7 linked regions of the Homo sapiens genome follow. The protein of the gene in region 2 purifies or fractionates together with the protein of the main gene of each other region. This does not show direct contact. Each region holds a gene or a part of one and is shown on either strand. Other genes may lie near its edges. The genes, in order: CRY1, RCN2, CORO1C, EMC2, COQ7, POC5 and POLD3.

Region 1 (3,500 bases), on a different chromosome or scaffold from region 2:
GAAGTTGAAAGAACTAGCAATTTTAAGTTTTCTTAAATTGAAACAGTACAAAACTTAAATGTCCTGGAGGGGGTAATCTAAGGCAATAATAATCCCCTAATCTCTGTTGTACCATTAGTTTCAAAATCTTCCCCACCAGAAGTGAGTAAGAACTGAGAACAGCAAGAGTTCTCCATATTCAACTTTTTGGTCAAAACAATTCTATGTGGTGCAAGAGTTCAATGACAGTAAGATGGGATAAGAAACAAACCAAAAGGACATGATTAATTCATAAAATGAAGAATTAAGTATGGATTAATTAATAATCTTTCCCTTTCTTAATAGGCTGAATAAGCATTCCGAATGCTTTTAATAAACATTCTTTTTTTTTTTTTGGAGACAGGATTGTGCTCTGTTGCTAAGGCTGGAATCATGGTTCACTGCAGCCTTGACTTCTCCCACCTAAGCCTCTAGAGTGACTGGGACCACAGGCATATGCCATCATGCCCAGCTAATTTTTGTAGTTTTTGTAGAGGTGGGGTCTCCCCACGTTGCCCAGGCTGGTCTCGAACTCCTGGCCTCAAGTCATCCTCCCACCTCAGCCTCCCGAAGTGCTGGGATTATAGGCATGAACCATCACAGGCCTGGCCTTAATAAACATTATATGAACCAAACAAATGCACAGAATGATATGGACTAAAGTAATGTGTTACAATAGGAAAAGTTTTGAAACCTAAGAATTAATTTTGTTTTGGTACTTCATGAAACAAAAGACTAAAAGCTGTATTTAAGTATGGTGTTCTTCTTCCACAGATATAACTTACATCTCTCATTTCACATAAAAGCTGCACAGATTTAAAAAATAGAAACACTTAAAAAATAATATAGGTATTTTGTAATCAAATATTTTAAGTAGAAAAGATCCAAAAAGAAAAGCAAAAGAGAAGGCTAAAGTAGAACACACTATGATGCTATTCTTTGTTATAAGGCTTTTAAAACTATTTGCATATATTACTCTGATAAAATAAAATTTACATTGCATGCATCTACTTTTGTTTATATGTGCACAAGAAAATAATTGGAAAAATACTTACCAAGCTATTAATCATATCTCCCCGTTAGGGAGTGGGGGTTTGAGATAGGGGTGAGAAACAGAGAAACAAACACATTTTTTTAACTTCATAAAAAAAGTTTAAAATTGATAATTAGCATACATTCCTTCAAAGTAGAAGAAAAACGAGATACACTACATATGTATCTGGTTTAATACATGGTGAACGTCTTTTCAAGGCAATGGACGTACTTCTACAGCATCAATTTTCATAGTTTCATAGTACTTCATTGCACAGATGTCCTATAATTTAACAAGTCTATCAACAAATTACTATCCTTAAATCAATCCTGAAAAGTCCTATCTAGTCTCCTCATCTGTAAAATTGGGACAGTAATCGGACCTGTCTCATAGCATTGTTCGTGAGATTAAATAAATTAACATATGCGAAGCTCTTAGAATAGTGCCTGCCCATAGTAAGCACAATTATATGTTATCTATTACTTTTTAGTGTTCTCCTTCCTTTCCACTTCTGTTTTTGCTACAATAATTCTAGTTCATATTATCTCTTGCTTGTATTTACTGCAATGCCTTAAAATAGATCTGCCTACTAACAATCTCTCTCCATTCTAATTCATTTTATATGCAATTCCAGATCTTCATGAGGCACACCTTCCCATACAAAGGTTTTCAACGACTCATTCCCTATACAATACACAACAAATCATTTTGCTTGGCTACTAACCTAGGGTTCTAGGTTGATTTCCTACCTCATACCCCTTTCTCTCACACCAAACCAAACTTCTCTTTCAGCACACATTCAATCTCCTGGAATGTGCTCCAGGGCCTTTCCTTGGCTTGGAATACCTTTCCCAATTCCTATCCCTTTAAGTTCATATCACACTAACCTTAAATCTTCCATCTTAAAGTCACTTCTACATCTTCTGAACCTCTGAGGTACATTATGTCCTTCAGAGGATGAAAAAATTTTACCTCATATTATACATATTATATATATAACATATATATAAAATATATATATTATATATAATTACATATATATTACATATATATATAAAATATATATATATATATTACATATATATATAAAATAAAACCTCCTCCTAATGGATTTCAAATTAAGTCAGTTCTCCCCATCTCTCTCTTTCTGAGACACAGTCTTGTTCTGTCATCCAGGCTGGAGTGCAGTGGCACGATCTCAGCTCACTGCAGCCTCCACCTCCCAGGTTCAGGCAATTCTTGCGCCTCAGCCTCCCAAGCAGCTGGGATTACAGGAGTGTGCTACCACCCTGGCTAATTATTTTTGTATTTTTAGTAGAGATAGGGTTTCACCATGTTGGCCAGGCTGGTCTTGAACTCCTGACCTCAGGTGATCCACCTGCCTCAGCCTCCCCAAGTGCTGGGATTACAGGCATGAGCCATCAGGCCTGGCCCTAACTACAGTTTTCTTAATCTATATTTTGGTTTCTATATTTGGCAAACAAATCTCATTATGTGCCTTGTATAATTTGTTGAAAAGATTAGAAACAGGATCAAATGACCTAGTAGGGGTGTCTTGTGTAACTGTTGAAAGGATTAGGAGCCTCATAAAATCACCTAGTAGAGTCTCTAGCACATGGTAGATATGTATCAAACAGAAGTTGTTATTTTCCCTTGAGAATAATTCCTGTTTTTTTTTTTTTTTTTTTTTAAAGAAAACACCCCATGCATTTCTATATGTAAATACTTGGGCATGACAAAAGAAAACGTGAATTAGTTGGATGCCTACACCTGTATACAGAATTACTTTGAATTCACAACTTCATCTGAATGTGACTTTGAACTATGATTTGAAGGAAACCTTTCCCAGTAGCAAGGTCAATGTGACTATAAATATTATAAAACAAGGTACAACGCAATTAAGACTCAACTAATCTCTAAGCATATAATTTTTCCTTGATAATACCTCTAACAGCCCAGGTTCAAAGTATCAACTCAGTGATGTGTGTGATTTCTCTTTAATGCTGAACGAATAATGTTACTTCAAAACTATACAAAATCTAATGCTCAATCCTTTACCCTTAACTGGGAAAGGATTAGATCTGTTAGAGTTCAGATTCAGTGTGTTCCAAAGAACACACCAAGTTCAACTTTAATGTAATAGAAATGCATGTGCTCTGGGACACTCAATATTGAATGAAATGAATGATTTATTTTTAATATATTCCACTGAAAATACATATGATATCATCTTAACAGGAACATACTTTCAGACCTTCTCCAATTTGGCATATATATTATTTTCTTGAACTACACCCATTTGATGGCTCCGTTATTACTGCTATTAACTACATACAACAGGTTGCTTTTTAAATAGGCCAAATGATAGTAAAACTCACTATATCCCTTCATATAATTGTACTGCCTACATAGAAGCACAGTCCTCATATTATTTAATTACAATACTGAA
Region 2 (3,073 bases):
GACAGGCCAGCAGCTGGCACAAAAAGACCTTAGTTTATGCTTTTAGTGTGTCATTGTAATGGAACAGTCTCTCTACTTAGGTTACCAATCACTGCTAATGGTACAATAACTGAGCAAAATGTTGATGCCCTCTGTTCATTGGAACCTGGTCTCAGAAGAAAAATATCTCTGTGGAACAGAAAGCAAAAGTAGGGTTTTTTTCTTTAAGGTATGAAAAATCATGATTAAAAGCTATGAGATTTTTAAAAATCCCCATAATCACTTTAAAATAGTTTTATAAGCTCAAATGGTTTCCTTTCTACAGCTCAGGAACTAACTGGTTAATTTGAGATAAAGATAGGGCAAACTGTAGGTATTCAGCAGTACTTGTTTTTTTTGTGCTTGGATTGAGGTGTTTCCCCCCCCCCCCGCCAAATAAAATAGAGACGTTTTAGTAGCTGCACTGGAGGCCCTTAGGTAATTGGTTACTAGTTATAAAAAATTTTATAGCAGGCAGGAAATCTGGCCAAATATTTATTCGACAGAACTCAAATGTTGCAATGAAGCAAATTAGTTTTTACAGTTGTTTAAAAACTTTTACTCTAAGTGGCTTTCCTAAATCATCTTCCTAAGTGAAAAAGTGTAAGTTTGAGTTGACATTTCTCACTCAAAAGGAGGTATTGTAACACAAAAACGTTTGAGAAACAATAGCATACATTTATCCTCACATTTAAATTGCAAAGGAATGATATTCTGGAACAGGCAAAACTGTAGAGACAGACCATTAGGGAAATGCAAATCAAAGCCACAACGAGATACCACGTCTCACCCAACAGGATGGCTACTATTAAAAAAAAAAAAGAAAAAAAAAAAAACAGAAAATAGCAAGTGTTGGTAAGGATGTAAAGAAACTGGAACTCTTGTGCACTATTGGTGGAAATGCAAAATGGCACAGCTGCTGTGGGAAACACTATGGCAGTTCCTCAAAATATTAAAAATAGAATTACTAGTCGGGCGCGGTGGCTCACGCCTGTAATCCCAGCACTTTGGGAGGCCAAGGCGGGCGGATCACGAGGTCAGCAGATCAAGACCATCCTGGCTAACACGGTGAAACCCCGTCTCTACTAAAAATACAAAAAATTAGCCGGGTGCGGTGGCAGGCGCCTATAGTCCCAGCTACTCGGGAGGCTGAGGCAGGAGAATGGTGTGAACCCGGGAGGCGGAGCCTGCAGTGAGCCGAGATCGCGCCACTGCACTCCAGCCTGGGCGACAGAGCGAGACTCCGTCTCAAAAAAAAAAAAAAAAAAAAAAAAAAAAAAAATATATATATATATATATATATATATATATATATATATAGAATTACTATATGATCCAGCAATCCCACTTCTATGTATAATATATATCCAAAAGAACTAAAAGCAGGATCTCAAAGAAATATTTGTACACCCATATTCATGGCAGCATTATTCACAATAAAAGGTGGAAGCAACCTGTGTCCATCAAAGGGTGAATGGATAAGCAAAATGTGGTATATGCAAACAATAAAGTATTGTTCAGCCTGACGAAAGAAATTCTGGTAACAATATGGGTGAACTTTGGGGACGTTATGCTAAGTGAAGCCACTCACAAAAAGACAAATACTATATGAGTCTATTTTAATAGACACAAACTAGAATGGGGCTGGGCGCGGTGGCTCATGCCCGTAATCTCAGCACTTTGGGAGGCCGAGGCAGGTGGATCACCTGAGGTCAAGAGTTCGAGACCAGCCATGCCAACATGGCGAAACCCCGTCTCTACTAAAAGTACAAAAATTAGCCGGGCGTGGTAGCGGGCATCTATAATCCCAGCTACTTGGGAGGCTGAGGCAGGAGAATCGCTTGAACCTGGGAGGTGGAGGTTGCAGTGAGCCGAGATCGCACCACTGCACTCCAGCCTGGATGACAAGAGTGAGACTCCGTCTCAAAAAAGAAAGAAAAAGAAAACTAGAATGGGAGGCTGGGCACGGTGGCTCACGCCTGTAATTCCAGCACTTTGGGAGGCTGAGGCAGGTGGATCACCTGAGATCAGGAGTTCGAGACCAGCTTGACCAACATGGTGAAACCCCATTTCTACTAAATACAAAAAATTAGGGGGCATGGTGGTGCCCGCCTGTAATCCCACCTAGTCGGGAGGCTGAGGCAGGAGAATCGCTTGACCCCAAGAGACAGAGGTTGCAGTGAGCCGAAATCATGCCATTGCACTCCAGCCTGGGCAACAAGAGCAAGACTCCATCTCAAACAAAAAAACTAGAATGGTGTTTGCCAGGTGCTGAAGGGAAGGGGAAAGGGGGCTTTATTGTTTAATGGGTATAAATTTCCGTTTTACAAATGAAGTTCATGGAGATGGAAGGTGGTAATAGTTTCACATTTTGACTGTATTTAATACCATACCACCGAACTGTACAATTAAAAACTGTTAAGATGAATTTTGTTATGTGTATTTTACTACAATCTAAAAAATTATGAACAGTAAAAAGATCAGTATTGCTTGGGGTTACAGGGAAGGGAGGGATGAATAGGTGGAGCAGAAAGACTTTAGGGCAAGGGAAATATTCTACCACACTACAATGGTGGGAATATGTAATTATACATTTGTCCAAACCCAGAGCATGTGCAGCACCAAGAGTGAACCCTAATGTAAACTATGCACTTTGGGTGACAATGATATGTTAACAGTTTCATCGATTTTAACAAATGTACCACTCTGGTAGGTACTATCTCATGACATATAGGATAGGATAGTGGGGGAGGCTGTACGTATGTGGGGCAGGGGACATATTGAAACTCTCTATACTACTTTTTGCTCAATTTTGCTGTGAACATAAAACTACACTAAAAAAAAAAAAAGCCTATTTTTAAAACTGCAAAGGAAAGAACTAAGTAAGGCAAACATGATATGCTAGCTTTTCCTCTGAACGTCCTGGCTTCCTTTAAATTTATATCATAATCTAGACATCATTTTCTGTCCTGCAAATTGGCCCAATCAGAACTACATATGAGCCAACATGTGCACATCCCATTCAATTTTCCCCTTTGAAGTTGTACCTGAACTC
Region 3 (3,500 bases), on a different chromosome or scaffold from region 2:
AAAAATCCATCTTTTGCCAGGAACTTTCCTTAAAATGGACAGACAGACACACAGACAGAGAGACTGAATACACAGACCTGAATAGAGAAGACTGTCTGAATAGACATTTCCAATTCAGACAGATGCAAAAACACTGGAGGTGTTTTTAAGACCGCCTTCCCATCCTAAAATTAGACATTTTTTGCCCTCTTCAGTGACTCAACTTTGATTCAAAGTCTAAAATCCTCAGGTGGGAGTAGGAATCCATACCCTTAATAGCTTAATGTCAGATGTAAAATGTATTAAACTTACTCTATTTGCTTCTCTGCAGTTCCATTCATTAACAGACATTTAAGAGAGAAGAGAGGGAACAGGAATGTATTCAGTACCTACTCTGTATTAGGCACTTCATATAATTTTCCTTGCTTAATCTTGCCAATGACCCTGCAAGGTAAGCCTTTTGCATCTCCACACTACAGAGGAGGAAAGTGAAGCTCAGGGAGGTGAGGGAGCTGGCAAAGTCACAGCTAGCAAGAAGCGGAGCCAAGAGTGAAGCCCAGCTCTATCTGGCCCTAAAGGCCTGCACCCTCACGGCCTCAGTTCCCCTAAATACAAAACTCTCTTAGAACGAGAACTACAGAAGGTACCCATAGCTCACTGTCCCTAACTAGACAAAAAAGTTGACATTTTTCTTTCTCTTCTGTACTACCTTGCCACAATCCAAGCTTTAACGAACACACAAAGAAAAGGTATCCCGAAATGGCCAACTGGTTTCTCCTAATTCTCAGAAAGGTGCTAAGTGAATTTATTTATTTATTTATTTATTTTTTTGAGACGGATTCTTTCTCTGCCGCCCAGGCTGGAGTGCAACTCTGTCGCCCAGGCTGGAGTGTGATGGCGCAGTCTAGGCTCCCTGCAGCCTCTGCCTCCCAGGTTTCAAGCAATTCCCCTGCTTCAGCCTCCTGAGTAGCTGGGACTACAGGCGCGTGCCACCACACCCGGCTAATTTTTGTATTTTTAGCAGAGACAGGTTGGCCGTGTTGGCCAGGCTGGTCTCAAACCCCTGACCTCGTGATCTGCCCGCCTCAGCTTCCCAAAGTGCTGGGATTACAGGTGTGAGCCACCACGCCCGGCATGAAATATTTTTAATTAAAGTATTTTAAAAATAAACATAATCTGGGAGGCCGAGGCGGGCGGATTATGAGGTCAGGAGATCGAGATCATCCTGGCTAACACAGTGAAATCCCATCTCTACTAAAAAATACCAAAAAATTAGCCGGGTGTAGTGGCGGGCGCCTGTAGTCCCAGCTACTTGGGAGGCTGAGGCGGGAGAACGGCGTGAACCTGGGAGGCAGAGCTTGCAGTGAGCTGAGATCGTGCCACTGCACTCCAGCACTCTAGCCTGGGCGACAGAGTGAGACTCTGTCTCAAAAAAAAAAAAAATGAACATAAGAACACAAAATATAACTAAAGAATACTAATTTGAGTCAGACACCCCAAGAGAGGAGAGCATGAACAAAAGAATGAAGAGGCTGGGCATGGTGCATCACGCCTATAATCCTAGCACTTTCGGAGGCTAAGGTAGGAGACTTGCTTGAGCCCAGGAGTTCAAGACCAGCCTATACAACATAGTGAGACCCCATCTCTACAAAACATTAAAAAAAAAAAAAAAGAATGAAAAGAAAGTACACACCCTTAAAATCCAATTTACAACCATTCTCATGAGTGTGACAGGGGTAGTTCCAGTACTAACTGACCAAATACTATCAGGGTCGGCCTGTATGCATTTGGTGTGACTAAATCGTGTTCGCTGGCCATCTACCCTACTGAGGAGACTGTGCGCCAGTCATTACTGTTCATCGGGGGAAAGAACCTGGACGAGAATGTTCTGCCATTGGGGAAATGTTTTAAACACTCAGTTTTACATTTGAGCACTTTTTGGTAAGAGCTGGACTTGGATGCCAGAAGGGCAAAAGGGAGTTACCCCATTCATGTTATTTTAACATAGGCAATAAAGACATTCATGATAATCAGAGAAACCCACTGACCTCAGGATCTTTCCAGTTAACTTCAATAAACAATCATTCATTCAGCGAATATCCAGTAGGCACTAATGACCAAGCCATGAACAAGAGAATCTCAGTCTGCCTTCCATGTGAATTGCTCTATTGCATTCTGCCTTGTATGGAAAGGCACCTTTCAGACTATTAGCTCAAATTCAGGTCCAGTTCTTTGTAGCAAACAGTCCTGATGAATGTACAATACATGAGGGCAGGGACAAATGTCTGCCTGTGAGATGAGGAAGTTTTCATGGAGGAAAAACCTCATGACCCATGTCCCAAAGGACAAGTGGGATTCTAGAAGTAGAAAGGCGATGAAGTAATAAATTCATCACAAGATTTGAAAGCTGGGATGTTTCAGGGAGTGGCACTAGAGATGAAGACATTGGAAGGGGAATAGTGAGAAATAAAGCAGGCTGAAATCAGAGCCCACCTTACTCCACACCTCATTAAGGAGTCTGAACTTTATTTTGTGGGTAAAGGTGAGGTCACCAGAGGATTTGAACAGGTGAATGGCATGTTCCCTGATGAATCCTTTTTCATCTATAGCATACCTTAAAATATATTAATTCAAACCTTTCCCCAGTCCTCTCACATTTGGGTTTCAACTTATATAACCAAAATATTGAGGAGGGTGTGGTTTAAGGTCTAATTTCTAACTAGTAAGACCCCACTATTCATAAATTGGAAATCATCAAAATTTAAAATCTTTGTTCCTAAAAAGGGGCACCATCAAGAAAATGAAAGGACATGTCAGAATCCAAGAAAATTTTTGCAAATCATACAGCTGATAAGGCACTTGAATCTAGAATACATGAACAACTTTTATAACACCAATAAAAAGACAACCCATTAAAAAACGGGCAGAGCATTTGAATGGACATTTCTCCAAAGATTACACATACAAATGTTCACCAACCACATGAAAAGATGCTCAACATCATTAGCCATTAGGGAAACACAGATGACTAGAATCAAAAAGTCAGAGAGTAACAAGTGTTGGCAAGAATGTGGAGAATTTAGAACCTTCATATACTCTTGGTGAATACCGTAAAATGGTGCAGCTGCTTTGGAGAAGTCTGGCCATTCCTCCAATAGTTAAATATAGAGTTACCATACAACCCATCGATTACATTCCTAGGTAAATACTCAGGAGAAATGAAAACGTATGTTCACAGCATTATTCATAATAGCCAAAAAGGAAAAACACCCAAATGTTCATCAACTGATGAATGGATAAACAAAATACGGCATATCCAAACAATGGAATATTATTTGACCATTAAAAAAAAAAAATGAAGTACTATACAATACTACCACACATATAAACCTTGAAAATATGCTAAATAAGGGCAAGACACAAAAGACCACATAGTGTATGATTCCATTTACATGAAACGGGAGGACTTCTAAGGGGTATGGGGTTTCTTTTTGGGGGGGATGAAAATGTTCTAAAATTGA
Region 4 (3,500 bases), on a different chromosome or scaffold from region 2:
AAAAAAGGATGCAAGTCATAAATGTGCCTTTCAGTGACTAATATAAGGTAAATGTATCCAGGCTAATAAATATAAACATTGCAGCATCCCAAAGCTCTCTTGGTAAGTCCTCTTAATTTCTCCTTTTGTATTCCTTAAGAGTACTCACTTATAACCCTATAGTTTATGGAATCAGCCAGTATGTATTCATTTTTGTCTTGCATATTTCTATCATTATTCAGTTTATGGGATTTATCCTTGTTTGTGTCTGTAGTTCATTCATTTTCTTCTGTAGTTCATTGTATGAATGTTATAATTTAGTTATTGCTATGCATTTGGAATATTTTCTGTTTGGGCTATTTTGAATAAACTATACTGAATATTGCTGTACAGGTCTTTTGGTGGAATATATGTGCAGTTCTGTATACCTTTGAGTGAAAATATGGGTCATAGAATGTATGTATATTTAACTTTAGTAGTTAAAGGCAATTTTCCAAATTAGTTTACTCCCACCAGCGGTAAGAGTTCTAATAGCCCCACATCTTCACCAACACATGGTTCTGTCAGTCTTTGTAATTACAGCCATTCTGGTACATGTGTAGAGTGGTACTTCATGGTTTTATTTTGCATGTCCCTGATGATCAGTTGCCATTTGGATGTCCTCTTTCGTGAAATGTTTTTCTCATTGGTTTGCATGACTTATTTCTTTAGTTTTTTGCTTATGAGCCCTTTTTTAGTTATATGTATAAGCAAATATGTATAACTTCTTACTTTTTTGCTCATATGATCTTGATGAATAGAAGTTCTGAAATGAAATGTGTTCGAATGCCTCAGTCATTTGTTTGTGTTTTTTGTGTTCTGTTTAAGAAATCTTTTGCTACTCACGGTCATAAAGAATTCTGTGTGTCTTCAGAATTTCTATTCTTTTACTTTTCGTATTTAATCCACAACCCATTTGGAATTGATTTATTTTTAATTTTTAATTTTTATTTTTTTAAGACAGAATCTGGTTGGTTCTGTTGCCCAGGCTGGAGTGCAGTGGCATGATCATGGCTCACTACACCCTCAACCACCCAGGTTGAGTTATCCTCCTGCCTCAGCCTCCCAACTAGCTGGTACTGTAGACGCATGTCACCGTGCTCGGCTAACTTTTAAATTTTTTGTAGAGATGAGGTCCAGCTGTATTGCACAGGCTGGTCTCAAACTCCTGGCCTCAAGTAATCCTCCTGTCTCAGCCTCCCAATGGAGTGCTAGGATTATAGGTGTGAGCCACCGCATCTGGCCTGGAATTGATTTTTATGTATGATGTGAAATAGGGGGTCCATTGCTCCCCATATGGATATCCAGTGTTTCTGTCCATCTTTGTGTTCCATCATGAGTCCCGTCCATGGAAGCTAGTTCAATGTAGTAAAGAGAAGATTACAGATTTGAACCCATGTTGTCTGGGTTCAAATTTTGACTCTGATATAATTATTAGCTATGCAAACTTGGATAAATTACCTAACATCTCTTGCTGTATCTTTTCTTCTGCAAGATGGCCATAATGAAATATTCTGAGAATTAAAGAAATTAAAACATAAGTTATTATGTTTTTCCTTTTCCCTGTCTCTTCAGTGTGACAAGACCCCCTTGAGGTATATTGAGATATAATTTACATGTAATCAAGTGCATATATTTTAAGTATACAGTCTGAGTTTTGACAAATGTGTACATCCCCTTACCAGCCCCCCACTCAAAATAGCATTTCCATCACCCAAGAAACTTTCCTTCTGCCATTTTGCAGTCAACCTCATCCCCCACTGGGAGACAGACAAGCACTGATCTGATTTTTATCACCAAACATTAGTTTTGCTTGTGCTATAACTTTGTATAAATGAGTTCATAGGTTATGTGCTCTTCTGTGTCTGGCTTCTTTCACTCAGCATGTTTTTGAGATTCATTCATTTACAGTCCATTTCATTTTTCCTATTACTTTGTCTACCCATGTATTTTCCACAAATTATGTAAAGGTAAATTTAAGCCCAAGCAAGGTATCTCAGTTATTACAATGCATGAATCACTGACCTCTGAATTTGATAAGCAAGTTTTTATTGTTTGGTTGTTTTTGTGTTTTTTTCTGGTGAGTTTTCTTATAGATCTTACAGAGAATTATGAAAGATTTACTTAAGCAAAATCTAACTGTATGAAAACAAAAATACAGTATTTGTGAATAATGTAAAAGAGTATATAACTTTCAGAGAATGACATTCTTGATAACTAGGTAAATCTTTGGGATCTCAGTGAGAATTTCTTAATCATATCTAGGAATATAAACCGGTATAGAGTATATAATATTTCGTATGGGATTTTTCTACGTATTTATAAATTAGGGAAAATTAGGTTTCAAGAACTGCTTTTCTTTCTTTGTTTCCACTTAATGATGAAACAGAATATGGCTACTATTTGCTCGTCAATTAGGTAATTGGTTTAGCATGTTCAGTAGAAGCAGACACATTTGATTAATGCACATGAAAAACTTTAATGTGAACCTACTCACAATGATTTTCCAGATAAATCCTTCTTTGTTGCACTGGTAAATCTGTGCTAGTGATTTATATGATATTTATGATTGCAGCAGTGATTCTGTTACTATCCTTTTGGGAAACAGAAAATTAAATCATGATTTGAGGGAAAAAATGATTCTGACTTAATCAGTTAAATTGCCATACAATTCTGGAATAGACAGAATAATTGCATGTCAGATTAAATTTGAAGTGATAGATTTGTATTTCCAACTTTCTTTTATTTGTTCTGACACAAGTAAATTTATTTGGTTTATTCTAAATTGCACTGGTTGTGAGTAATGTTGACACCATCTCAGTTGACTCTTTAAAATTAGCTAATTTTAAAAGATCACACTGTATTATTTTTATGTTTAAGTATAAACCAAGAAAAATACTGTATTTAAAAATACATGTTATGGTTTTAGCTCTACATAATTTTTTTTATTTTTACTTTGCTATTTAAAAGCAATTAGAATAAATGTTACGTGGTAATGTTACTATGTGATGTCCTATTCTGTACCCCTCCCCCAACCCATAAAACTTTTTCTCAGAATTAGACCTTTAAGTATCTGATTAGGACCGTTCCTATTTATGTTTCATAAATGGTGGTAAATGAAAAAGCTTTCTGTTTCTGGTAAATCCTTGTGTAAGTGAATTTATTAACTGGATAACAGAAGTAATAAGCATGCCTCACAGCCTTTAGTCCTCAGGGGAAATTATAAAAAGACAAAATTTTAAATGTGATATTGCTGTTACCATATTTAACATATGAATTCCTTAAATTCGTGATGCCTTTTGAAAGGCAAGGTGATCTTGATTTTTATGAGAAGCTTTTTTTCTTTTTCCTCTGGCATTTCCCCTAGAAACATCCTTTATTTACTTTTTCAAATCAGGATTCAGCTACAGAAACTAATCTAATGGTTTAGAGTGTAGGAAGTGAGGGAATCATAATGTTAAGCTGTAGCCAGAGGGGTCAGA
Region 5 (3,500 bases), on a different chromosome or scaffold from region 2:
GTGTCTGGGAAAAAAAAAAAAAAGCTTCTGGGGAAAAGGAGAAGGCATAAAGCAAGAAAGGAGATTCCCAATCTGGAGCAATAATGCGTTTGCTTGCTTTTTGTCAAAGCAACGTCATTGGTTTTCTCTCCCTTTCGCTGTCACTTTAAAATGTATTTTTCTGGCAACAGAAACCTCCTGCCCCTTCAGCCTCCCAAATAAGGAGTCCCAAAGCAGAACAGGTAACAGTAGGGCCCTACCAATTCTGCATCATGGTCGAGGCCTATGTCATGGTGCTCAAGCTCTTCATCCCGAAATTTCTTTATCAGCTGGTTAAATAAAAAGACACCAAAGCAAGTTAGCCTTCCAACTCTCCTGCTGTTCCATTTCATTTTGGAGGCTAAAGCCTCTTATTATGGCCTAAGACAGGGAGGCCAGCTTTTCCTCTAAAGGGCCAGAGAGTAAATACTTTGTTGCAACTACCCAACTCTGCCACTGTAACCAGAAAAGCAGCCGGAGACATGCAAACAAATGGACGTGCTTGTGTTCCAATAAAAGTTTATTTAAAGAAACAGGTGGCTGGCCACAGGCCATAGTTTGCCAACCTCAGATTTAGACTCTAAAAAACTAAACAGTTCCCTTATTTGCTGTGGAAAATTATCTCAGGATATCTATTCATTTATTCAATCTAAAGGGTTCCTGCTCACAGCATCTGCTCAGAATCTACCAATGATAAAGAAGTGGGCCGGGCGCGGTGGCTCACGCCTGCAATCCCAGCACTTTAGGAGGCCAAGGCAGGAGGATCACCTGAGGTCAGGAGTTCCAGACCAGCCTGGCCAACATGGTGAAACCCCGTCTCTACTAAAAATACAAAAATTAGCTGGGCGTGGTGGTGCATGTCTGTAATCCCAGCTACCTGGGACGCCGAGGCAGGAGAATCGCTGGAACCCGGGAGGCGGAGGCTGCAATGCAGGCGGAGACCACTGCACTCCAGCCTTGGGGACAGAGTGAGACTCCATCTCAAAAAAAAAAAAAAAAAAAAAAAAAAAGTGAACAGCACCAGGTGGTGTGGCTCACACCTGTAATCTCAGCACTTTGGGAGGCCGAGGCAGAAGAATCACTTGAGCCCAGGAGCTCAAGACCAATCTGGACAACATAGAGAGAGACTGTGCCTACAAAAAATTTTAAAAATTAAAAATAAAATAAGTGAACAGGACAGGGCTCAAGAGACAAGGGTTCTGGCCGGATGTGGTGGTTCATGCCTATAATTCTAGCACTTTGGGAAGCTGAGGAGAGAGGACTACTGGAGCTCAGAAATTCAAGACCAGCCTGGAAAACATAGTGAGACCCCATCTCTTAAAAAAAAAAAAAAAAAAAAAATTAGCTGTGAGTGGTGGCTATGTATGTAGTCCCATAGCTACTCGGGAGGCTGAGGCAGGAGGATCACTTGAACCCAAGAGTTTGAAGATGCAGTGAGCTATGACTGTGCCACTGTACTCCGGCCTGGGCAACGGAGCAAGACCTCATCTCTAAATAAAAAGAAAAAAGACAAAGGAGACAAGGGTTCTAGTCCCAGCTCTGTCTGTGCTGTATGGCCAGGGCAGACGGGTTCACCTCTCTGTTCCTCAGTTTGCTCACCTTTAAACTGAGGCACTGACCTGAGCCTCTAAACCCCCATCATCCCCTAACAATCTCTAACATGTTTTCCTCTTACCCAATTGCTATCTGCCATTTTCCTCCTTGAGCAGCCCCGTTCTAGAGCACGGATAAATACCTGAAGAAGTTCCTCGTATTTTTCAGGGTCCTCCTCCATCAGCGTCCTGATCTGGTTGTTGTAGTGATGTGCTATGCTCTCTTCCACCGCCACGGTGCAGGCCATGGCACCTTCCTTCCCGAGCAAGGCGGTCCCCGCCCCTGGGATTGTTAAACCCAGACCAGAAAAGTAAGAGACAGATATGACCGGTAATGGAGACCATCTGTGGCCAGGGCTTCTTAACCTCTGCACCAGACATCGGGCCGGGTCATTCTTTGTGACAGGGGCTGTCCCATGCATGGTGGGATATTTAACTGCATCTCTGACCTCTACCAACTAGATGCCAGCAGTGCCAACTAAGTTTTGACAATCAAAACTGTCCCGAGGGCTGGGCACAATGGATCACGCCTATAGTCCCAGCACTTTGGGAGGCCGAGGCGGATCACCTGAGGTCAGGAGTTCGAGACCAACCTGGCTAACATGGTGAAACCGTCTCTACTAAAAATACAAAAATTAGTCAGTGTGGTGGTGGGCGCCTGTAATCCCAGCTACTTGGGAGGCTGAGGCAGGAAAATCGCTTGAAGCCGGGAGGTGGAGGTTGCAGTGAGCCAAGATCACGCCACTGCACTCCAGCGTGGGTGACAGAACAAGACTCCATCTCAAAAAAAAAAAAAAAAAAAAATGTCCCTAGGTATTGCCACATGTCCTCATCAGGGGGACAAACTCACCCTGAGGGAGAACCACTGTTTTAGGAGACACTGGATCCCAGTGTTAAACCTGGAATTACACAGTTAAGAAAAACCATTCTCTTTTCAATGCTGTTTTATCCTGACCGTGGCCAAGAGAAGTCAGCATTTGGGGTGAGTATATCTTTGATCTTTTATACCATTTATTCTTCTCCGTTTTTTAAAAGAGTGAACAGATCTCAGGTTGAGAATCGTTGTCAGGGAACAGTATTTGGCTGCAACTGAATTCTACTAGCTTTTTTTCTCTGTTGTTTATTTTTACTGTATTTTCTATTTATAATACTGACATTAGGCCAGGTGCAGTGCCTCACGCCTGTAATCCTAGCACTTCGGGGAGGCCAGAGAGGGAAGATGGCTTGAGGCCAGCAGTTTGAGACCAGCCTAGGTAACATAACGAGACCCCATCTCTACAAAAAAAATAGAGCTGTGCGTGGTGGCATGCGCCAGTAGTCCAAGATACTCAGGCTCAGAGGCTTAGGTGGGAGGATCACTTGAACCCAAGAGTTTGAGGTTTCAGTGAGCTACGACTATACCACTGTACTCCAGCCTGGGCAACAGAGTGAGACCCTGGCTCTGGTTTGTTTTTTTTTGTTTTGTTTTGGTTTTTTTTTGAGACAGAGTGTCGCTCTGTCACCCACGCTGGAGTGCAGTGGGCCAATCTTGGCTCACTGCAACCTCCAGCTCCCAGGTTCAAGCGATTCTCTGGCCTCAGCCTCCCAAGTAGCTGGGATTACAGGCACGCACCACCATGCCCGGCTAATTTTTGTATTTTTAATAGAGTCGGGGGTTTCACCATGTTGTTCAGGCTGGTCTCGAACTCCTGACCTCATGATCTGCCCGCCTCGGCCTCCCAAAGTGCTGGGATTACAGGTGTGAGCCATCACGCCCGGCCTTTTTTTTTAAAGTACTGACATTAAGATTCTATCTTAAATAAATTTAACCACACACAAAAAAAGGCAGTCAATTTAACCTCGGAAAAATATGAAGTAAACAGAATGAGGTCATAAGAGGACACAGCAAGA
Region 6 (3,500 bases), on a different chromosome or scaffold from region 2:
TAGCTTAGAATGTATGCCCTTTTCCTCTCTGGAAATTATTTAAAGAGCAGTTATAAATATCTCTTGGTAAATGTGCCCAATTTACAAAATCTCTTTCTAATGTGACTATTTTTAGAAATTTATTTCAGTTATTCAGTTCTTTTATAAGAGAGAATATTATCTTAGGATTTTAAAGCCTTCTGAATTTTTTTTTAAGAACAAGAGTAATAATATCACTGAAGAAGTACATCAACATATAACATTAATAACATTAGTTATATATAATGTTATTAATATGTTATATGTATAACATTAATTATATATATTTACTTATATATATAACATTTTATGTATGACATATGTTATATATGTTATTAATAGTTATATGTATAACATGTTATTAATAGGTATATATAACATATATAATATATAGTTATATATATAACTATAACATATTAATAGTTACATATATAACTATTATTTGCTTTTATAGGTTTGTTTAATCCAGAAAATCATTGGACAGTCGTTGAGGAACTTCTATATCCAAGATAGTAGTAGGGACCAGAAAGATATTTAAATATCTAAATATTCTGGCCCCTGCCCTCAAATCTAGTGAATAAAGACATGGTGTATATAGGAGAACTTTCAAATGTATAATTGTTTTACCTGAATTGAATGTCAGTAGCTAATTTGCATATACATAAACTTTTTATTGGTGATTACCATATACACATAATGAAGACTTCCTTCTTCTTTTGTTCCCTTTCATTAGTTGATATCTAGTATATTCATGTGAGAAAGTTTTACCATCTTTTTAAAGATAATAATGAGGTTAACTGAATGAATATAGTAGTGATCCATACCTATCCTCTCTAGCATTTTTTGATATATGAGAAAATCACTTTACCAATTGCTGTTATTTTAATATCACAATAATTGGGTTAATTGCTGTTTACAGGTGATTTCTAGCTTGTCTCATGCCATAGGCAAGCAAAAGGAAAAGATAGAGTTGATGAGAACATTCTTCCACTGGCGAATCGGCCATGTCAGAGCCAGACAGGATGTAAGTGTCAAAGCAGAAGACAGCTGATGGATGTTAGACTTCTGAATTCAGAAGTGCTCAGGATCACTTATTATAGTTGTTTTCTAATAAGTCAAAATGAATTTGTGATTTAATGTTCCTCTTATTTCAAAGGAATTTGATTTTGATGTAGTTTGGAAAAAATACAGTTTAGATCTTATTGACATATAATATATATATATTACAATAGATACATCATTTCCTGCTTCATAGTAGGTTAATAAGGATTGTTCCTAAATTGTAAAGGCCCTGGTAATAGAACCCCCTCAGATGTGGTTATTGGAGAAAGAAGTTATGTTTAACATATCAAATGCTTCCTATATTGTTTCTACTTTTAAAATGCCTGAATACAACTTATTCATAAAGAGGCTTTACTATATTTATACATTAAATCACAGTATAAATGTTTGTTATGTAGACTTGCCTTAGAGTGAGAGTCAGAGAAAGCCATACCTGTACAGCTTTTTAAAAGTTATCCTTAGCTTGTAGTATATCATTTAAACTTGAACATCTTTTATTTTAAGTAAGAGCTGAGTTGGTATATCAGTAAATAGTGAACTGAAAGAGAATACTAAATTGTTGTATCAAAAGTGGAAAAGTATGAGTATATCCCACAACAAGACATAGTTTAGAGACACATGAATATAGGAGATGAATATATATATATATGCTTTCCATGTATATTCATGTGAGCTATGGAATAATCTCTGTGTATTTAGTTTCCAAGAGATTAGTATTTAAGGAAAAAGCTAGTACAGGTTGAGTATCCCTTATCCAAAATGTTTGGCACCAGGAGAATTTTGGATTTTAGATTATGTTTCATATCACACCTTATGCACAAAATTCATTTATGTTTCATATTTCACCTTATACATATAGCCTAAGGTAATTGTATACAATATTTTTAATAATTTTATGCATGAAACAAAGTTTGTGTTAAGTACTTCTGTGTGGAATTTTTCACTTGTGGTGTCATGCTGACACTCAAAAAGTTTCAGATTTTTGGATTAGAGATGCTCAACCTACTTTATCCTGGAATAAGATTTCTCCTTTAAGAATACTTTCTGGATTTTTCATTTTTTTAATTAATCCCAGTAGATTAAATCCACATTAAGTAAGCTGGTTAAAATGAATATTTATACTCTACTTTGAAACTTGTCAAGTGAAATAATGAGAATACATATTTATTTTTAAATGTTAGCCAGAATAGTTGAGGCTACTGTCACTTTTGGATAGTTTTTCAAACTGAAGAAATTGAGAATTGGAACTACTTCTTCAAAAGAATTTAAATTCATTGATAAAAGAAAAATAGCATAAGTTTTTATTTGGATTGGCACCATATATGATGGCAGGGTTTATAAATTAAATCTTGCTTGTGGTGGCCATCAAACTGAAGAGAAAGCAGTGTCATCTGAAGCCACAGCCACCACCATTTCCTGCCTTCTAGCCACTCTGTTATTCTCCTGGTCCTGCTAAATTCATAACTAAGATGGCAAGTGGTGATTTGCTCATTTTCTTTCATTTGGTTGTATTCTTTTTCTCTAACTTGATTAGTTGCATAAAGCAATGATGTAATGGATAAGAGCTCAGTCTCTGGAGTCAGGCAAGTCTGGCTTTACTCATCTACTTATGTGAACTACGTAGCTTGCTTAACCTCTCTAAGCCTGTTCTCCTATATGCAAGATGAGAATAATATGATTACATAGAATTAAATAATGTGTATATGTACACTTACCACCATGTTATGTTTATTATTACTACCAATATATTTATCAATCAACTGTGTTTTTGAAGTTATATTTTACTTTTATTTAGGTTTATGAAGGTAAACTAGCTGACCAGTACTACCAGAGAACTTTACTGAAGAAAGTCTGGAAAGTCTGGCGTTCCGTAGTGCAAAAGCAGTGGAAAGATGTGGTAGAAAGAGCTTGTCAAGCAAGAGCTGAAGAAGTTTGTATCCAGATTTCCAATGATTATGAAGCCAAAGTTGCTATGGTAAGCATCTTTTTCTGGTTTTCACTTTCTTCTAATACAATAAAAAGATAGATAGACTCACTATTAATTAATAGACTTCTTCTTTTGGTCTTTAATCAAGAATGCAGACAAAAAAATGAAAACGTTTATTCTTGTGTTAATTTAATGTTTATTGTATATTCTTACATGGTTGATATAAGGAGTTGTATAGAAATTGAAATTATTAGTTGGGCGCGGTGCCTCACTCCTGTAGACCCAGCACTTTGGGAGGCCGAGGCGGGCAGATCACCTGAGTCAGGAGTTTGAGACCAGCCTGGTCAACATGGTGAAACCCCGTCTCTACTAAAAAAATTAGCTGGGTATGGTGGCACATGCCTATAATACCCGCTACTCGGGAGGCTGAGGCAGGATAATCTTTTGAACCTGGGAGGCAGAAGTTGCAGTGAGCTATATCACACTGTTGCAC
Region 7 (3,500 bases), on a different chromosome or scaffold from region 2:
GAGTGCAGTAGTTCAAACATGGCTTCCTTTAGCCATGACCTCCTAGGCTTAAGGGATACTCCCACCTCAGTCTCCTGAGAGTAGCTGGGACCACAGGTACATGCCACCATGCTAGCTGATTTTTTTATTTCGTAGAGTTGGGATCTTGCTGTGTTGACCAGGCTGGTCTTGAACGTCTGGACTCAAGCAGTCCTCCTGCCTCAGCCTCCCAAAGTGCTGAGATTATAGGCATGAGCCACCATGCTCGGCCTCACTATAGTATTTTCACAAACATTTCTCTCAAGTAATTTTTTTTTTTTTTTTTGACGGAGTCTCGCTCTGTTGCCTAGGCCGGAGTGCAGTGGCGGAACTCAGCTCACTGCAACCTCCACCTTCCAGGTTCAAACGATTCTCCTGCTTCAGCCTCCTGAATAGTGGGGATTACAGCACCTGCCACCACGCCTGGCTAATTTTTGTATTTTTAGTAGAGACAGGGTTTCACGATCTTGGCCAGGCTGGTCTTGAACCCCTGACCTCGCAATCTGCCCACCTCGGCCTCCCAAAGTGCTGGGAGTACAGGCTTGAGCCACCGTGCCTGGCCTCATACTGTTTTTTTTTAGCATTATTTCAGGCTATGTCATACAACAGTAAACCTGACAGACAGGGTCCCTCCCCTGGTTGATTTAAACAAGATAATTTCAGACTGTGAAAATGCTGTGAAATAATTAAGTTGGGTTAGAGAAAGCGGTATGGGCAATACACTGTACTCATCCTGGGGAACATTATGGGTGGAACTGATCAGGAGGGAAGATTAATGAATTAAAATGGGAAGCTATAATTAATCATGTGTAGGAAGTGTATCTTGTAAGAAGTCATATATGTTGTTATTATTATTATTTTTTTTTTTTTTGAGACAGCTCTGTTGCCCAGGCTGGAGTACAATGGTGCAATCTCGGCTCACTGCAACCTCCGCCTTTAGAATTCAAGCAATTCTCCTGCCTCAGCCTCCCGAGTAGCTGGGACTACAGGCACATGCCACCACGCCTGGCTAACTTCTTGTATGTTTAGTAGAGATGGGGTTTCACCATGCTGGCCAGCTGGTCTTGAACTCCTGACCTCGTGATCCGCCTGCCTCGGCCTCCTAACATGCTGGGATTACAGGCATGAGCCACTGTGCCCAGCCTGTTGTCATTCTTATTTAAGAATATTTTATATTTTGTTTATTAAAAAATATTTGGCTTAGGCTGGGCGCGGTGACTAATGCCTGTAATCCTAGCACTTTGGGAGGCCGAGGAGGGCAGATTGCCTGAGCTCAGGAGTTTGAGACCAGGCTCAAGCTATCCTCCTGCTTCTGCCTCCCTGAGAGCTGGGATTACAGGCGTGAGCCACCACACCTGGCGCTACTGAAATACAAAAATACTAAAATACAAAAAATTAGCCAGCGTGTGCCTGTAGTCCCAGCTACTTGGGAGGCTGAGGCAGGAAAATCACTTGAACCTAGGAGGCAGACATGGCAGTGAGCTGAGATCGCGCCACTGCACTCCAGCCTGGCGACAGAGCGATACTCTATCTCCAAAAAAACAGAAAAGTTTGGCTTAAATTAGATAAAACATGTTTTAAAGACTCAAAAAGTAGGCAGGAATTCTTTCCTTTTTTTTTTTTTTTTTTTTTTTTGAGATAGGATTTTGCTCTTGTTGTCCAGGCTGGAGTGTGATGGCACGATCCCAGCTCACTGCAACCTCTGTCTCCCAGGTTCAAGCGATTCTCCTGCTTCAGCCTCCCGAGTAACTGGGATTACGGGCATGCGCCACCATGTGCCCGGCTAATTTTGTATTTTTAATAGAGACGAGGTTTCTCTATGTTGGTTAGGCTGGTCTCAAACTCTCAACCTCAGGTGATCTGCCTGCCTTGGCCTCCCAAAGTGCTGGGATTACAGGTGTGAGCCACCGCACCCAGCCACAAGAATTGTTTTTTAAAATAAGAGTTTGCTTTGCATTTTCTGTTAATATAAGAGAGAAGAACTGGGGTCAATTTGGGGAGACAAGTGCATAGAGGACAATGACTGATGATATGGGCAGGACTATTAGTTGTGGATAAAAGATAGTGCATTTGGCCAGCAAGCTTGCAAGCATTTTGGGCATGGTACCTGCCTATCATGTCTTCCTTTAGCATGGTCCAAACTAGCATCAATAAACCAAAATGTTTGTGGATCTGTTAGCTCATTTATCCTTCTAACACAATTGTTGTAATGGAAAGAAACATTAGAGGGCAAAGAGGAGGAATCAGCAAAAATCCTGACTAGGGCACCTTTTTGTACTCAAGGTGTTAACAGTCTAGAGGGGATGCGTCATATGTAAAATAAATAGTTAGAAGGCAGGGTGATATGTGCTGTAATAATAGATATGGGATAAAATTTGTTAGAGCTTGGATGGCAGAAGCTCATTGTCTAGGCATGATGGCTCACTCCTGTAATCCTAGCATTTTGAGAGGCCAAGGCAGGAGGATCACTTGAGCGCAGGGGTTCGAGGTCAGGCTGGGAGATATAACAAAAGCCTGTTTCTACCAGGAAGAAAAAATAATAACCAGGCATGGTAGCATGCACCTGTGGTCCTGTTTACTTAGGAGGCTGAGGAAGGAGGATGGCTTGAGCCCAGGAATTCAAGGTTATAGAGAGCTGCGCCACTGCACTTCAGCCTGGGCGACAGAGTGAGACTCTATCTCTTAAAAAAAAGATGTGCCCTGGTGACCTGATGGTGTTGGGGAAGGGTTCATACTTCATAGAGGAGGTGACAACTGAGCTGCTGTCTTGATGAGAAATTAGGTAGTTGAGGCCTGAGAAGAGCCTTCTAGGCAGAAGGAAGGGCATATACAAAGGAATAAAGAGAATTGTAGAATGTTTCATTAAGGATGAAGATAGTGTAGGTATGATGGGGAATGGTCAGAGATACAGAGCCCAGAACAAGAAGGGTCTTACCTGTCATTGCTAGAGATTTGAAGTTGATCCTTAGGGGATGAGAAGCTACTGAAAGCTTTGTTACACTTTTTTTTTTCTCCTCCCTTTTTGTGGAACATGGGGTCTCGCTATATTGCCCAGTCAGGTCTTGAACTCCTGTGCTCAAGCTATCCTCCTGCTTCTGCCTCCCTGAGAGCTGGGATTACAGGCGTGAGCCACCACACCTGGCGCTACTGAAAGCTTTATAACAAGGAATTATGTTTCAGACAAGACTCTCTAGCAACCTTTTCAACATCAACAGTGACTAATAGGCATTGCAAATTTAATATGCCCCCAAACCTAACTCCTGACTTCTCCCCTCAACACCTGCTTTTCCTGCTTTTCCCCCATCTCAGTGAATTACAGCTTCCTTCTTTGGGTTGCCTAGTCCAGTCATTTTTGACTCTTCTTTCTCTTACACTTCAACACAGTATATCAGCAAATCCTGTTGTTTCTCACTTTAAAATATACCCAGAATTCATCCACTAATTACTACCTGCACTGCTACTGCCCCAAACTGAGCTACCAG

The links.
Region 1: the proteins of RCN2 (region 2) and CRY1 purify together in Homo sapiens (co-immunoprecipitation; one large-scale study listed by IntAct). This does not show direct contact.
Region 3: the proteins of RCN2 (region 2) and CORO1C fractionate together in Homo sapiens (co-fractionation; one large-scale study listed by BioGRID). This does not show direct contact.
Region 4: the proteins of RCN2 (region 2) and EMC2 fractionate together in Homo sapiens (co-fractionation; one large-scale study listed by BioGRID). This does not show direct contact.
Region 5: the proteins of RCN2 (region 2) and COQ7 purify together in Homo sapiens (co-immunoprecipitation; one large-scale study listed by IntAct). This does not show direct contact.
Region 6: the proteins of RCN2 (region 2) and POC5 purify together in Homo sapiens (co-immunoprecipitation; one large-scale study listed by IntAct). This does not show direct contact.
Region 7: the proteins of RCN2 (region 2) and POLD3 purify together in Homo sapiens (tandem affinity purification; one large-scale study listed by IntAct). This does not show direct contact.

What each region holds. Positions count from the first base shown.
Region 1 is NC_000012.12:107,024,050-107,027,549, forward strand, and holds part of CRY1 (cryptochrome-1), read right to left. Parts: intron 1-3,500.
Region 2 is NC_000015.10:76,951,821-76,954,893, reverse strand, and holds the end of RCN2 (reticulocalbin-2 isoform a precursor), read right to left. Parts: 3' UTR 501-3,073; downstream 1-500.
Region 3 is NC_000012.12:108,725,019-108,728,518, forward strand, and holds part of CORO1C (coronin-1C), read right to left. Parts: intron 1-3,500. UniProt on the Homo sapiens protein: Plays a role in directed cell migration by regulating the activation and subcellular location of RAC1. Increases the presence of activated RAC1 at the leading edge of migrating cells.
Region 4 is NC_000008.11:108,481,624-108,485,123, forward strand, and holds part of EMC2 (ER membrane protein complex subunit 2), read left to right. Parts: intron 1-3,500. UniProt on the Homo sapiens protein: Part of the endoplasmic reticulum membrane protein complex (EMC) that enables the energy-independent insertion into endoplasmic reticulum membranes of newly synthesized membrane proteins.
Region 5 is NC_000016.10:19,074,114-19,077,613, reverse strand, and holds part of COQ7 (NADPH-dependent 3-demethoxyubiquinone 3-hydroxylase, mitochondrial), read right to left. Parts: intron 1,894-3,500; coding exon 1,754-1,893; intron 309-1,753; coding exon 240-308; intron 1-239. UniProt on the Homo sapiens protein: Catalyzes the hydroxylation of the 5-methoxy-2-methyl-3-(all-trans-polyprenyl)benzoquinone at the C6 position and participates in the biosynthesis of ubiquinone.
Region 6 is NC_000005.10:75,689,938-75,693,437, reverse strand, and holds part of POC5 (centrosomal protein POC5), read left to right. Parts: intron 1-937; coding exon 938-1,042; intron 1,043-2,875; coding exon 2,876-3,055; intron 3,056-3,500. UniProt on the Homo sapiens protein: Essential for the assembly of the distal half of centrioles, required for centriole elongation. Acts as a negative regulator of centriole elongation.
Region 7 is NC_000011.10:74,599,082-74,602,581, forward strand, and holds part of POLD3 (DNA polymerase delta subunit 3), read left to right. Parts: intron 1-3,500. UniProt on the Homo sapiens protein: Accessory component of both the DNA polymerase delta complex and the DNA polymerase zeta complex.